Linked DNA regions of Homo sapiens: region 1 is linked to region 2. Evidence: fine-mapped expression QTL. Tissue or cell type: whole blood. Region 2 holds a variant in brackets; the other region holds the start of a gene. All regions are shown on one strand. Distances are from middle to middle.

Region 1 (8,102 bases), 110 kb before region 2:
CATGCCTGTAATCCCAGCACTTTGGGAGGCCGAGGTAGGCGATCACTTGAGGTCAGGAGTTCTGAGACCACCCTGGCCAACATGGTGAAACCCCATCTCTACCAAAAATATAAAAATCAGCCAGGTGTGGTGGCGCACCGCTGTAATCCCAGCTACTCAGGAAGCTGAGAGAGGAGAACTGCTTGACCGTGAGGTGGAGGCTGCAGTGAGCTGAGATCGTGCCACTGCACTCCAGCCTGGGTGACAGAGCAAGACACCAAGACAAAAAAAAAAAACCAAACTAACCTTCCTCCTCCAGGCAGCCATCCCCGCCCCCTCTCCCCCAGGCAGAGTCAGGCACATCCTCTATGCTCACAATTCTCTGGGCTCCCTCCATCACAGCCCTGACCACTGTGAGCCTCCCAATAGTAGGGCCCAGTCCATCTCAGGCACTGCTGGGTCCCCCAACATCACCCAGCCCAAGGCCAAGCACAGAAGACTTCAGAAATATTTGCTTAACACAAATCTCGACTAGCCCACGATGAAGCACATTTTAACAACCCAAACTATGACAGGACCACAGGCTGATTTCTAGGAACCTTGTCATCAGTTCCCCTCTGACAGGTCCCAGAGATGCCTCTTTCCAAACCTGGCTCCTCCCTCCCAGTGGAGGATGCCCCCACCACTCTCTGCTCACCTCAGGGCTTGGATGTGCTCTCACCGTCCTCAACATCCCCTGCAGTAACTGTGTATCTATAAAACTGCCTCTGCCTTGAGACTGAGATCTCTGTAAGGGAGACTGTGACCCCAACATGCCAAGTCAAGGAACATTTGTTTTTTGTTTTTTGTTTTTTGAGATGCAGTCTCGCTCTGTCTCCCAGGCTGGAGTGCAATGGTGCGATCTCTGCTCACTGCAAGCTCTGTCTCCTGCGTTCACGCCATTCTCCTGCCTCAGCCTCCCAAGTAGCAGGGACTACAGGCACCCACCACCACGCTAATTTTTTGTATTTTTAGTAGAGACGGGGTTTCACCATGTTAGCCAGGATGGTCTCAATCTCCTGACCTCGTGATCCACCCACCTCAGCCTCCCAAAGTGCTGGGATCACAGGCGTGAGCCACCACACCCAGCCAGAACATTTGTTGAATGAATAAATGAACAGGTTACTGGAGCCATGATGGGTGAACCAGCAGCTCCCCTCAAAAGTAGCTCATTATTTGCCATCCCTACCTGTCTAGCCACAGAACCCTGTCCTTCAAGGACCATGTCATCATTTGGCTGTCTGAAAAGGCCATCCAATCCTGTCCCTGGCAGTGGGGACAGGCCTCACAGTGCCCTCTTGCCTCACCTGGTAACTGAAGAGGAGCCAGCGGCGGGGGTGGGGGGTCAAGTATGGTGTAGTGTTGGGGAAGTGAGACTAGTAACAGTGCAAACGAGAATGTCCCAGACAGGAAATGGAACTGGGGATCTTGGTCTCATTTCCACCTGACTTTAACCACCAAGCAGTGTCTCCAAGCCATGAATCAGAGACCAAGAATCCAGTGCTACAGCTTAGAGAAAAGGCCCTCCCTGTCACTCTCCCACCACAGCATCCCAATTTCTCCAACTCTTCACTGCAAGCCTGGAAGCCAGGCACTCTCCAAAGGTCACAATAAAGATTGGCAATCAAATGTCCACAGAGGATAAGCAGGCAACATAAGTGACTGGGACAAGTCACCCGAAACACACAGCACTCTCCATCTACCAAACGTTTTCCAGAACACAGCCACATGAAATCTTTTCCTTTTCTTCACTCTGCCACAAGGCAAGCAAGAGGACAAATGGCAACTAACATATCCTGGGAACTGGAGAAAATTCCCAGCTGTATAAGTAGGGCAGCCACTCATCAAGCAAACGGCTGCTCTGCAGAACAACTCTGTGTCCCAGGGTGCCAGCTCCTTCCATTTCCCCAGAAAAAGAAATCTTAATCTTTATGTTAAATCTCCCTCACAAGCATTGGCAACTAATTTAACAGCCAATTTAAGTTTCTGTGCATCAAACAAGGGATCTATAATCACCCTGTCATCTGTTTACTGGTTTGTGATTGCTACCTACTAAATGTCAACTCCAAAAATGCAAAGATTTCCTACCAGACACCTGAGAAGTAAGTGGAACACAGTAGTAGATGCAAACACTGATTTGTTCAACAAACAAATAAAACAAAAATAAGTTTAAAAGGTGGATAATGGGCTTGGTGCAGTGGCTCACGCCTGTAATCCCAGTACTTTGGGAGGCCAAGGAGGGTGGATCACCTGAGGTCAGGAGTTCAAGACCAGCCTGGCCAACACAGTGAAACCCCGTCTCTACTAAAAATACAGAAATTAGCCTGATGTGGTGGTGCATGCCTGTAATCCCAGCTACTCGGGAGGCTGAGGTTGCAGTGGGCTGAGATCATGCCACTGCACTCCAACCTGTGCAACCTAGTGAGATGCTGTCTCAAAAAAAAAAAAAAAAAAGATAATGGCAAATAAAAGAACATTTGAAATCAGAAATGCCCCAGGAAATGTTGGTTTTTTGGTTCCTGGAACAGAGGTACAACAGACCCAAAGCCAGAGTGATCCTTTCAAAACATTAGATCACATCTTCCACTTGCTCAAACTTTTTCGTGGTTTCATTTTACTCAGTTAAGACCAAATTCCTTACCACAGCCTTCAAGATCCTATATGACTTGGCTCTCATAAATTCTTTGTTGCACTCACTCTGATCCAACCAAAGTGGACCCCCTTTTTTTAGGGGGTGGTGGGGAGACAAAGTCTCACTCTGTCACCCAGGCTGCAGTGCAGTGGCACCATCACAGCTCACTAGACCTTCACCTTCTGGCTCAAGCAATCTTCCCACCTCAGCCTCCCAAGTAGCTGGGACTACAGAAGCGTGCCACCAAGCTCAGCTAATATTTTTATAAGACGGAGTCTTGCTCGTCGCCCAGGCTGCAGTGCAGTGGCGCGATCTCAGCTCACCACAGTCTCCACCTCCCTGGTTCAAGCGATTCTCAGCTTCAGCCTCCCGAGTAGCTGGGATTACAGGTGGGCGCCACCATGCCAAGCTAATTTTTTTGTATTTTTAGTAGAAATGGTGTTTCACCATGTTGACCAGGCTGGTCTTGAACTCCTGACCTCAGGTGATCCACTGTCTTGGCCTCCCACAGTGCTGAGATTACAGGTGTGAGCCACCAAGCCCGGCCTCAGCCAATGGTTTTTATATTTTTGTAGAGACAGGGTCCCGTTGTGTTACCGAGATTGCTCTCAAACTTCTGGGCTCAAGTGATCCTCCCAGCTTGGCCTCTCAAATCCTCGTTAATCCCTGAACACGGCGGACACACTCCCATCTCTGCACCTGCTGGTCCCCCTCACTGGAACACTACACTTCCAGCTAACCACGACTCACTCCCTCACCTCCAACAAGTTTTTGCTCAAATGTCACCCCTCAGACTCATGCTGATGACCCTATTTCAAGAGCAACCAGGACTCTCCATTCCCCTTTTCTGTTCTTTTCTCCAGAGTACCTTCCAGCTTACTATATAGTTTATTCCTTGGCTATATTTATTTACATTCCCGAAGGCAGACATTTTTAAAATCTTTTTGTTTACTGGTGTACCCTAAGAGCAAAGAATTGCGCCTGGTACATAGTAGGCACTACAAATATAGTTATGGAATGACTAGACATAACTAAAAAAAAAAACTAATGCTAAGTGCTTACTATATGCACACAGAGTAAACTTTCAAAACATCACCTGTTATCTCACTGGACCTGACCCATTTCTGGCCTCCAGAACCTGTCCCTTTGCTTGACTTCGACTTGCCTAATTCTCTATCTCTTGAGACAATCTGGGAGTTCCCAGAAGCCAGAGCCCGCTGTGAACCCCTCGAGCCTCCCACAGGGGCCTTTCTGCCCGGAGTCCTGTCCCCAGACGCAATGTCTCCCCCAGCGCCCCAGCCACAGACCTCGGCCTCCTCGCCGTCACTGCTGCGCTCGCTGTCCTCCTCCTCGGAAAAGTTGCTGTCCTCGCTGTCCGACATCTTCCGCTGCTGCTGGGAAAGACAGCAGCCTTGGCGCGTCCCACAATCCTGCGCTCCACCCCGAGCCTCAGTTTCCCCGCTGGTTCCCTGGGAGAAGAAAACCCCTTAGGGCGCTTCCGGCAGGCTCGTTTTGGCAATCGCGAAGCGGAGTGAGGACCCCCTCCTACGCCACATGCTAGACCTCCCCAGTTTCCGAATCTGTTCTCTACACCTCCCCGGCGCCCGGAACTGCCACCTCTGCACACGCACTTACCTCTCGGGCTCCACCTCCGCCTTCGGTACCAGCTGCTGTTCGCACGACGCCTGACTGGGGCTGACGGGTCCTCTCGCGAGAACCTACCCGTTGACCTCGCCTAACACGAGATTTCCGGGGCTGGCACGGGCGACGCACTTCCAGGTCGCCATCTTGAGAGAGGCAGGGCTGGCCTGGGCGGAGTGCGGGGCCGACATCTGCGGAGGGTTAGGAGGGGAAAGGTTTTTTCTACCCGCCGGCTCGGCGACCAGGCTGAAACTCATGTTTGAATTTAGTGAGCCGTTTGTTCGTTAGTCCGGAACACTAGCGCGGTAGGCCAAGCTGCGAGGAGGCGGCGAAATCAGCGAATAGCAAATTATAAAAGAAACAAGGCTTTATCTCCTAGGCCCTCTAAAGCATCCCCAGGAGATCCGTATCCCCGTTTTGGAGAGAACGCTGAAGCTCAGAAAAACTCAGTGGAAAGCGGCAGACCCAAGCCTCCTCGCCAAGTCTGAGTGACCGTGAAGCCCTGGTTTTTCCTTCTTTTTCTTTCTTTTTGTACTTTTTTTTTTTTTTTGGTAGAGTCGGGCTGTTGCCCGGCCTGGTCTCAAACTCCTCTAACTCAAACTAAAAAGCCATCCTCCGGCCTCGTCCTGCCAAAGTGCTGAGATCACAGGCATAACCTGCCGCGCCCGGCCCAAGTCCCTATTTTTCTTTCCAGGCTTCCTAAGTTCATTTAAAGGCGAATTTATCTATTAGTAATGACGGCTGACGAGTGATGGCAGAGTGGACAGGTGTAATGGAGAGATGAAAAATGAACCTTCGCCTGTAATCCCAGCGCTTTGGGAGGCTGAGGCGGGAGGATCACCTGAGGCCAGGTATTTGAGACTAGCATGGGCAACAAATTGAGACCCCATGTATCCAATTTTTGTGTTTTTTTTAATGTGGTGTGGTGGCGTGTGCCTGTGGTCCCTGCTACTCCAAAGGCTAAGGTGGGAGGATCACTTGAACCCATGTTGAGGCTTCAGTGAGCTATGATTGCACCACTGCACTCCAGACTGGGTAATAGAGACCCTGTCTCTAAAAAAAAAAAAAAAAAAAAATTAAAACTTAAATTTTTAAAAATTGAAAAATTAACCTGATAGGGGAAATTTTAAAAATCAGAAGTCTATGTCAGTCGCGGTGGCTCATGCCTGTAATCCCAACACATTGGGAGGCCGGGGCGGGCAGATTGCCTGAGGTCAGGAGTTCGAAACCAGTCTGGCCAACATGGTGAAACCCCGTCTCTACTAAAAATACAAAAAAATTAGCCGGGCGTGGTGGCATGTGCCTGTGATTCTAGCTACTCGGGAGGCTGAGGCAGGAGAATGGCGTGAACCCAGGAGGCGGAGCTTGCAGTGAGCCGAGATCGCGCCACTGCACTCCAGCCTGGGCGAGAGTGAGACTCAGTCTCAAAAAAAAAAAAAAAAAAAAGAAGCCTCAGGACACATTGGTAAAATTTCTCACATAAGTATGACACACCTGGGCCGGGCGCGGTGGCTCACGTCTGTAATCCCAGCACTTTGGGAGGCCGAGGCGGGTGGATCACGAGGTCAGGAGACCGAGACCATCCTGGCTAACACGGTGAAACCCCATCTCTACTAAAAATACAAAAAAAAATTAGCTGGGCGTGGTGGCGGGCGCCTGTAGTCCCAGCTACACGTAAGGCTGAGGCAGGAGAATGGCGTGAACCCGGGAGGCCGAGCTTGCAGTGAGCCGAGATCGTGCTACTGCACTCCAGCCTGGGCAACAGAGCTAGACTCCATCTCAAAAAAAGAAAGGATTCTCCACCGGGCGCGGTGGCTCACGCCTGTAATCCCAGCACTTTGGGAGGCCAAGGCAGGCGGATCACCTGAGGTCAGGAGTTCAAGACCAGCCTGGCCAACATGGTAAAACCCTGTCTCTACTAAAAAATACAAAAATTAGCCAGGTGGCGTAGTGGCGCACACCCGTAATCCCAGCTACTCGGGAGGCTGTGGCAGGAGAATCTCTTGAACTTGAGAGGTGGAGGTTGCTGTGACAAAAGAGCAAGACTCCGTCTCAAAAAAAAAAACAACAAGAAAATAGGATTCTACATATTAAATCGCTACAGACACTGCTGCAGAAAGCCATTCCCTGCAGAAAAAAGAGGGCACAGTCATTTCCCCAGCCATGGAAGTTTCTTCCTTGGTGGATCCGTGGTTCTGAACTCAACTCTGGTAGCACATCAGAATACTTGAGAATATTTTAGAAAGAAAGAGTTGCATAATAGCCCTAAACTGGAAACACAAAAATTAGGGCCGGGCGCAGTGACTCACGCCTGTAATCCCAGCACTTTGGAAGGCCAAGGCAGGCGGATCACGAAGTCAGGAGTTCAAGACCAGCCTGGCCAATATGGTGAAACCCCATCTCTACTAAAAATACAAAAAAAAAAAAAAAAAAAATAGCCAGGTGTGGTGGCGCACGCCTGTAATCCCAGCTACTTGGGAGGCTGAGGCAGGAGAATCACTTGAACCAGGGAGGTGAAGGTTGCAGTGAGCAGAGATCGCACCACTGCACTCCAGCCTGGGCAACAGAGTGAGACTCGTCTCAAAAGAAAAACAAATTTTGGTACATCCATCCATGCAACAGAATAGTAACAACTACCAATACACCCATGACTGAATCTCCAAAACATTATGCTGAGTGAAAGAAGCCAGACATCAGGAGATGTCCAGCATGATTCCATTCATATGAAACTCCAGAGCAAGCAAAACCAACCTATACAGACAATGCAGATTAGTGGATGTCTGGGGCTGGAGAGGGAGGTGGAAATTGACTGGGAAGAGAGAGAAGGAATGCTTTGGGGTGATGGAAATGTGGCCATCCAGTCCACCAGCCGGTGCACTCCAGCCTGGGTGACAAAGGGAGACTCTGTCTCAAAAAAAAAAAAAAAATGTCAGGTGTGGTGGCTCATGCCTATAATCCCAGCACTTTGGGAGGCCAAGGGGGGAGTATCGCTTGAGCCAGGAGTTCAAGATTAGCCTGGGCAATAAAGGGTAACCCCATCTCTACAAAAAATACAAAAATTAGCTGAGTGTGGTGGCATGCGCCTATAGCGCTAGCTACTTGGGGGACTGAGGTGGGAGAGTCACTTGAGCCTGAAAGATCGAGCCTGCAATGAGTTTTGATCATGCCACTGCACTCCAGCCTGGGTGACAGAGTGAGACCCTGTCTCAAAAAAATATATGGGCAGATGCCAAGTTACAGCCTGTGCAGCATAGTGAAACCCTGTCTCTAAATAATAATAAAAATAATATAGATGCTCAGGCTTCACCAGAGACCAATTATCAAATTATCTGGGCTGGGGTCTGGCCATCAGTATTACTTGAAAGTTCTCCAAGTGGTGGGCTGGGCACGGTGGCTCACGCCTGTAATCCCAGCAGTTTGGGAGGCTGAGGTGGGCAGATCACAAGGTCAGGCGTTCGAGACCAGCGTGACCAACATTGTGAAACCCCATCTCTACTAAAAATACAAAAATTAGTCAGGTGTAGTGGCGCGTGCCTGTAATCCCAGTTACTCAGGAGGCTGAGGCAGGAGAATTACTTGAACCCAGGAGGTGGAGGTTGCAGCGAGCTGAGACCATGCCACTGCACTCTAGCCTGGGCAACAGAGTGAGACTCTGCCTCAAAAACAGAAAAGAAAAGAAAAGAAAGTTCTTCAAGTGGTAATTTTTTGTAGCCAGGGATGTAGGGATGTGAACCACAGGACCCTCCCTGTTCTCAAGGTATAGGGATGAGGTTAGAGAATACCTGTGCACTTCTCTGTCCCTTCCTGGAAG
Region 2 (8,102 bases):
CGAGGGGGGAGCGACGGTGGTGGAACGGGGCCCAAGAGGCCCGCCCCCTCCTCGGCGGGATTGGTCGGACGTGGGGGTGACGGGCAGTCGGCCAGGCCTGGGGTTTGGGGCTGGGGGGCGGGGAAGGGGCGGGGCGCGCGGGGCGTTGCCCAGGGCAACGGGCCCGGCGGAGTCTGAGGTTGGGCCTCCAGGCCCGCAGGGGGCAGGCTCGCGCGCGTCCACCCCAGCTGCCCCGAGCGAAGTCACAGTTCCTGATTCAGGCGTTCCAGGCCTCCTCTTCCCCGCCCCTTGGGTGGCCCGCCTCACCCAAGGCTGTCCTCAGTGGGCGTCTGCACTCGGGCTTCTGGGCGCTCGGCTTTCTCATCGCGCTGTTCTCAGCCTTGCCGCTTGCTCTCTCCGATGGGAATGGCGAGGCGAGATCTAGCCTTTAGGGTGGGAAGAGAATGCACAGAAAGCGCTAAGGATCAAGGAGGCTGTCAATAAACGGGAGTTGTTGCTGTGACTTTGGTTGTGATCTGTGCGTTCCACAAACTGTATTGGGTCCGGGTGAACTAATCAGAGGGACCTGTGTTCAGAAGGCTCTCGGTGACAGAGATCTGGCTTGTTACAGGCACTTAGAGAGGCAGTCGGGATGGAGGGTCGAGTTGAAGACAGGGAGGGGTGAGGAACGAGCAGAGGCCAGTTGTTTGGCCACTTGAGGGAGTTTGGACTTGTCCCGAGGGCACTAGGGAGCCGTGAAGGGCTTCAAGCCGGGGAGGATCATGGTGAGTCTGGGGTTTTGGAGAGATGTCTCTCTGGCTTATACATGGAGGGCGGATTGGAGGGAATGAAACGGGATCGGGAGTCCAGGGAGGCAGCTGGGGGAGGGGGTGGGGAAGAAAGAGGGGGTTTGCACGAGGGAGGGACTGTGGGGAGGGAAGGAGGTGCAGGTGGGAGGGACGCCCTGGAGGCAGAGCGAACGGGCCCTGACACTGGCTGGCTATGGAGTGGAAGGGGGAGAAAAGTTTAGGACCAGGCCCCTCTAGCCGGGAGACTGGGCGCCAGAAGCAGGTTGGGAAGATACTAAGCCCAATGTGGATGCCTAGTAGCGAGGTCCAGGAGGTGCACAAACCCTGGGTCTGGAGCTTAAGGGAGAAATTGAGGCTGGAGACCAAGATTTAAGGATCGTCAAAGATGGTAATTGAGGCTGTGGGAGTTAGGGGTCTAGCCCGGGGAGGGTATGAAGGGTCACTGGAGACAGGGACTGAACAGAACCCTGAAACAGAGAGGCAGGATTTGAGCAAAGGAATTGACGCTGTCGATGAATATTGCAAAAGGCAGCCAGAGAGAGGAAAACCAGGAGAGTGTGGCATTATAGACGCTTTGAGGAAAGGCTGTTTCACCAGGGTGGGGCCATGTCACAAACCCCATCCACTACCTCCTGCATTTAAGCAACAGCCTTCACACTGCATAGAATTATTGTGCTCATTAACTGCTGGTTCATTAATTCATTCAATAATATTTCTTGACTATCTAATATGTGCCAGGCTCTGCTTAAGGTGCTAGAAACACAACAATAGGATGAGCGCGGTGGCTCACACCTGTAATCCCAGCATTTTGGGAGGCCGAGGCAGGTGTTCGAGACCAGCCTGACCAACATGGTGAAATCCCATCTCTACTAAAAATACAAAATTAGCGGGGCGTGGTGGCACATGCCTGTAGTCCCAGCTACTTGGGAGGCTGAGGCAAGAGAATCGCTTGAACCCGGGTGGCGGAGGTTGCAGTGAGCCAAGATCGTGCCATTGCACTCCAGCCTGGGCAACAACAGTGAAACTCCGTCTCAAAAAAAAAACAAAAAAAAAACAAAAAGACTTACATTCTAGTTCTTGGGGACACAAACAATAAGGAAATACAGTGTAACTTCGTGATAAGTACCAAGGAGAAAAAGAAAGCAGTGGCTGGGCATGGTGACTCATGCCTGTAATCCCAGCACTTTGGGAGGCTGAGGCTGGTGGATCACTTGAGGCCAGGAGTTTGAGACCAGCCTGGCCAAAGTGGCAAAACCCTGTCTCTACTAAAAATGCCAAAAATTAACTGGGCATAGTGATGCGTGCCTGTAGTTCCAGCTACTCAGGAGGGTGAGGCAGGAGAATCACTTGAACCCAGGAGTCGGAGGTTGCAATAAGCCGAGATTTGCCATTGCACTCTAGCCCAGGTGACAGAGCGAGACTATGTCTCTAAATAAATAAACAAATAAATAACAAGAAAGCAGCTAAGGGAATGGAGTAATGCAGCCAGAATTAATTTACATGGGGAAAGGCCTCTTTCATTAGGTGAGACTGAAACAGAAATCTGAAGGAATGAAGGAGAAAGTGGGTTCCAGAAAGAGAAAACAGCAAGTGCAAAGGCCATGTAGTAGGATCATTCACAGAACCACAAAGGGGCCAGCATTGCTGGAGTGGAGTGAGCAAAAGAGGGCAGTGAAGGACAAGGTCCAAGAGGCAATGGGGTAGGGGTGGTGACAGATAACTTAGTATTTTAGTCATTGTTGGTGTGTGTGTGTGTGTGTGTGTGTGTGTGTGTGGGGGGGGGGGGCAGGGTCTCACTCTGTTGCCCAGACTGGATTGTAGTGGTGCGATCGCGGCTCACTGCAACCTCGGCTCACTGCAACCCCTGCCTCCTGGGTTCAAGTGATTCTCCTGCCTCAGCCTCTGGAGTAGCTGGAACTACAGCCGTATGCCATCAAACCTGGCTAAGTTTTGTATTTTTAGTAGAGATGGGGTTTCACCATGTTGCCCAGGCTGGTCTTGAACTCCTGGACTCAAGTGATCTGCCTGCCTCGGCCTCCCAAAGTGTTGGGATTACAGGCGTGAGCCACTGCGCCTGGCCTGCTGTTTGGTTTTTAGAGATAGGATCTTACTCTGTCACCTGGGCTGGAGTGCAGTGGTGTGATCCTAGCTCACTGCAGCCTCAAACTCCTGGGCTCAAGTGATCCTCCCAACCTCAGCCTCCCAAGTAGCTGGTACCTGGGATTACAGACACATGCCACCATGCCCGGCTACTTTTAAAATTTTTTTGTAGAGACAAGGTCTTGCTATGTTGCCCAGGCTGGTCTTGAACTCCTGGTCTCAAGCAATTCTCCTGCCTTGGCCTCCCAAAGTGCTGGGATTACAGGCATGAGCCACTGTGTCTGGCCCATGGGAGGGTTTGAGACCAGCCTGGCCAACATGGTAAAACCCTGTCTCTACTAAAAATACAAAAATATGGCTAGGCGCGGTGGCTCACACCTGTAATCCCAGCACTTTGGGAAGCTGAGGTGGGCTGATCACGAGGTCAGGAGTTCGAGACTAGCCTGACCAACATGGTGAAACCCCGTCTCTACTAGAAATACAAAAATTAGCTGGTTGTGGTGGCGCACACCTGTAATCCCAGCTACTCATGAGGCTGAGGCAGGAGAACTGCTTGAACCTGGGAGGTGGAGGTTGCAGTGAGCCGAGATTGTGCCACTGCACTCCAGCCTGGGTGACAGAGAGACACTCCATCTCAAGAAAAAAAAAAAAAAATTAGCCGGGTGTGGTGGCTCACGCCTGTAATCCCAGCTACTTGGGAGGCTGAAGTGAGAGAATCGCTTGAACCCAGGAGGCGGAGGTTGCGGTGAGCTGAGATGGTGCCACTGTACTCCAGCCTGGGTGACAGAGCGAGACCCCTGTCTCAAAAAAAAAAAAAAAGAAAAGAAAAAAAGAAAACCAGGCAAGTGTGGTGTCATGAAGACGATGTTTCAGGGAACAGGGAGTGATGGGCTGTGTCAGATGTGGCTGAGGAGGAGTGAGAATTGACCATTAGATCCAGCACCGTGGAGTGCATGGGTGACCTTGACAAGGGCATGTCAGCTGAGAGGAATACAGGTGAAAGGCTGATTGGAGAAGGCAGAAGAGAAAACTGGGAGGAGAAATTGGAGGCAGCAATGTAGATTATTCTTTTGAGAAATCTTTTTTTTTTTTTTGAGAAGGAGTCTCACTCTGTCACCCAGGCTAGAGTGCAGTGGCGCAATCTTGGCTCACTGCAAGCTCCGCCTCCTGGGTTCACGCCATTCTCCTGCCTCATCCTCCTGAGTAACTGGGACTACAGGCACCTGCCACCACGCCCGGCTAATTTTTTGTATTTTTAGTAGAGACGGGGTTTCACCTTGTTAGCCAGGATGGTCTCGATCTCCTGACCTCGTGATCCACCCGCCTTGGCCTCCCAAAGTGCTGGGATTACAGGCATGAGCCACCACGCCCGGCCTCTTTTGAGAAATCTTGCAGAAAAGGGAAGGAAATGAGTGAGCAGCAGCTGGACAGGAGATACAGTTTTATGTTTTTAAGATGGAAGAGGCCAGACACAGTGACTCACGCCTGTAATCCCTGCACACCAGGAGGCTGAGGCAGGAGGATCGCTTGAGGCCAGGAGTTTGAGGCCAGCCTGGGCCACATAGCGAGATCCTGTCTCTATAAAAATCAAAAGTAAAATTGGCCAGGCATGGTGTTGCGTGCCTATAGTCCCAGCTACCTAGGAGGCCAAGGTGGGAAGGTGGCTTGAG[C/A]CCAGGAGTTGGAGACTGCAGTGAGCCATGATTACACCGCTGCACTCCAGCCTGGGTAACAGAATGAGACCCTGTCTCAAAATAAAAGAAAAAAAGAAAAGAAAAAAATTAAGATGGAAGAAGTAACACTGCATGGAGGCTAAGGAGAAAGATCCAGGAGGCATGGGGACGTTGGTGAGACAAGAGGGAGAGAGAGGACAGCTGCAGAGATGTAGGTGAAGGGGTAGAGTCCAGTGTAGGGTCCGGGGTTTGCCCACCATGGAGGGAAGTGGGCCAGTCACAGTTGGCCTAGGACCCTGTGGAAATTGTCTTTTGTTTGCTTTTATCTTCTCACTGAAATACATATGGTTTTTGTGTGAACTACATTCCTTTTATTTCTTCTTTATATGACAGTCAGGACATTATATTGATTTTTTTTTGAATTTATGTGTGTAAGTAGGTTATATTATCTAGGAATTTTATTTCGGGATGGGAAAAGGGGGCAGTGCAAAAATACTCAATAAAAAAAATAGCCGGGCATGGTGGCTCACAGTGGCTCACACCTGGAATCCCAGCACTTTCGGAGGCTGAGGCAGGTGGATCATTTGAGGTCAGGAGTTCGAGACCAACATGGCCAACATGGTGAAACCCCATCTCTACTAAAAATACAAAAATTAGCCGGGCGTAGTGGCACGTGCCTGTAGTCCCAGCTACTTGGGAGGCTGAGGCCGGAGAATGGCTTGAACCTGGGAGGCGGAGGTTGCAGTGAGCTGAGATCGCACCACTGCACTCCAGCCTGGGCGACAGAGTGAGACCCTGTCTCAAAAAAAAAAAATTGGGTACCGGTCTGACGGGATTGAACTCCCTTGTTGTAGGGCCTCATAGGTCATTGCAAGGCTAGTGAGGTTGGAAAAGTGCAGGAAAAAAGTCACCATTACCCAGGCACTGTGGGGTTGCCCCTCTGGTCCCCATTTTGCCATTGACATAATGGGCGTCAGTCTGACCAGCAAAAGACTAAACTCCCCTTTTCCAGCCCTGCAATTCAAATATCCCAGATGGGGGTAAATCTAGGAAGGCCACCTGGAGGAGGGGAGGAGCAAAATAGTTCGTTTTTAGTACCTATTGTGTCTGCCATGCTGGCAGCTATGTGAAGCTATTTATTTATTTATTTTTATTTATTTGTATTTTTATTGCCTGGGATAGAGTGCAATGATGTGATCTTGGCTCACTGCAACCTCTGCTGCTCGGATTCAAGCAATTCTTGTGCCTCAGACTCCCGAGTAGCTGGGATCACAGGCGTGCACCACCATGCCAGGCTAATATTTTGTATTTTTAGTAGAGATGGGGTTTTGCCATGTTGGTCAGGCTGGTCTCCAACTCCTGACCTCAGGTGATCCGCCCGCCTCGGCCTCCCAAAGTGCTGGCATTACAGGTGTGAGCCACCATGCCCGGCCGATGTGAAGCTATTTATATCCTCACCACAATCTCAAATCAGAGGGGTGAAGTTACTTAGCTAGGGTCACACAGCAAGGAAGCTTTGGAACCCTGGTCTGAGCGATTTCCTGACAGGTCCTGGCAGATGAGGGGAAGGAAGGAGGGGGAGGAGCCCTCTGTGACAGTTGTCCCAGAAAGGGCATAAACAGGATGTGGTGTTGGATGAAACCTTCCTCCTACTGCACAGCCCGCCCCCCTACAGCCCCGGTCCCCACGCCTAGAAGACAGCGGAACTAAGAAAAGAAGAGGCCTGTGGACAGAACAATCATGGTCAGGGGCCAGGGGTTCTATGGGAAGAGCTGGGGCTGGGGTTGGGGCTGGGGCTTGGAGGACACCTGGGCGAAGGTCAGGCTATGGGATGGAGGTCACGGGCCGGGAAGGGGGCCCAACTGTGGTGAACAGCCCGGCTGGAAGAACAGAGAGACAGTGGCTCTGGGTTTAGGCTCAGGAAGTGGATCTCTGCACCTCCTTGAGTGTCCCCCAAGAGTCCCCGTGGAGAAGGCGGGAACCCAGCCTCTGCTCCGCCCCCCAAGCTGAGTGCCCTGGTGAGGGGTATCTACTCTGTGGGAAGGGTGCCTTTTCTCAATGTTCACAAAGGCATCAGATGGGCCGGCGCGATGCTCCTCTTCATTAGTGGATGGAGAAACAGGTTTGGGGAAGGGGTGAGGGCTGAGGCCAGGCCATTTCAGCTCTTCCTGGGTCCCTCCGGCAGTCTGACTCCCTGGTGGTGTGCGAGGTAGACCCAGAGCTAACAGAAAAGCTGAGGAAATTCCGCTTCCGAAAAGAGACAGACAATGCAGCCATCATAAGTGAGTGACATCTTCCCCCACAGAAGGATGGGAGGGCGGTGGTGAGGGCAGATAGGGAGGGCTGGGCTTGTGTCCCCCATGGATCAGGGGGAGTGTCTAATCCCTGTGTGCCACCCCTCCCCAGTGAAGGTGGACAAAGACCGGCAGATGGTGGTGCTGGAGGAAGAATTTCAGGTGATGGGCTGGGGTGATTGGGACTGGGAGGTACAGGGTGAGACTGGGAGAACCAAGTGGTTGGAACTGATATGAAGAGCCTGGCATGGGGGTAGAAAGACCTGGAGATTGGCCGAGCACAGTGGCTCATGCCTGTAATCCCAGCACTTTGGGAGGCCGAGGCAGGTGGATCACCTGAGGTTGGGAGTTCAAGACCAGCCTGGCAAACATGGTGAAACCCCATCTGTACTAAAAATATAAAAAGTTAGCTAGGCATGGTGGTGGGCACCTGTAATCACAGCTACTTGGGAGGCCGAGGCAGGAGAATCGCTGGAACCCGGGAGATGGAGGCTGTAGTGAGCCGAGATTGTGCCACTACACTTCAGTCTGAACCACAGAGCAAGACTCTGTCTCAAAAACAAAAACAAAAAACAAAAAAACAAAAAACCCTGGAGATCAAGTTCTAGCTCACTCATGACCCCCAGCAAGAGACTTTGCCTGTTTGTGTCTCTATTTCCTCATCTGTGAAATGGGGAGAATAGTACTTATCTCATAGGCTTGTTTTTACATCCAGTGATTTAATTCTTGTAATGGGTTTAGAACAAGGCCTGGCACTTAGTATGTGCTCAATAAGGTGATGATGATCTTAATAATGATGATAATAATGCTTTATTGGCATTTAAATGAAAGAGTTTCCATATAAGTTAAAAAGCTAGCCAGGCATGGTGGCTCATGCCTGTAATCCCAGCGCTTTGGGAGGCTGAGGCAGGAGGATCACTTGAGCCCAGGAGTTTAAGACCAGCCTGGGCAACATGGTAACACCCTAACTCTACTAAAAATACAAAAATTAGCCAAGCACAGTGGTGTGCACCTGTGATCTCAGCTACACAGGAGGCTGAGGTGGGAGGGTTGCTTGAGGCTGGGAGTTTTGAGACCAACCTGGGCAACAAAGCAAGACCCCATCTCGGCTGGGTGCCGTGGCTCACGCCTGTAATCTCAGCACTTTGGGAGGCTGAGGCGGGCGGATCACAAGGTCAGGAGATCGAGACCATCCTGGCTAACATGGTGAAACCCCGTCTCTACTAAAAATTCAAAAAATTAGCTGGGTG

What was found. PIP is the estimated chance that this variant, and not a neighbour inherited with it, causes the effect.
Region 1: SUPT5H starts here. The variant in region 2 is fine-mapped to the expression of SUPT5H in whole blood (TOPMed, PIP above 0.99).

The regions. Positions count from the first base shown.
Region 1 is chr19:39,441,821-39,449,922 of GRCh38, reverse strand. SUPT5H (SPT5 homolog, DSIF elongation factor subunit) reads right to left here and starts at 4,341. Exons shown (of 30, transcript NM_001111020.3): 1 at 4,286-4,341; 2 at 3,958-4,119. The coding sequence starts at 4,032. RefSeq lists enhancers at 3,912-4,131, 3,504-4,300, 4,272-4,541, 4,301-5,098.
Region 2 is chr19:39,334,173-39,342,274 of GRCh38, reverse strand. It overlaps GMFG (glia maturation factor gamma), which reads left to right and starts at 6,232. Exons shown (of 7, transcript NM_004877.4): 1 at 6,232-6,301; 2 at 6,744-6,840; 3 at 6,965-7,014. The coding sequence starts at 6,299. RefSeq lists a silencer at 1-165. The variant C/A (reference allele first, on the strand shown) is at 4,559.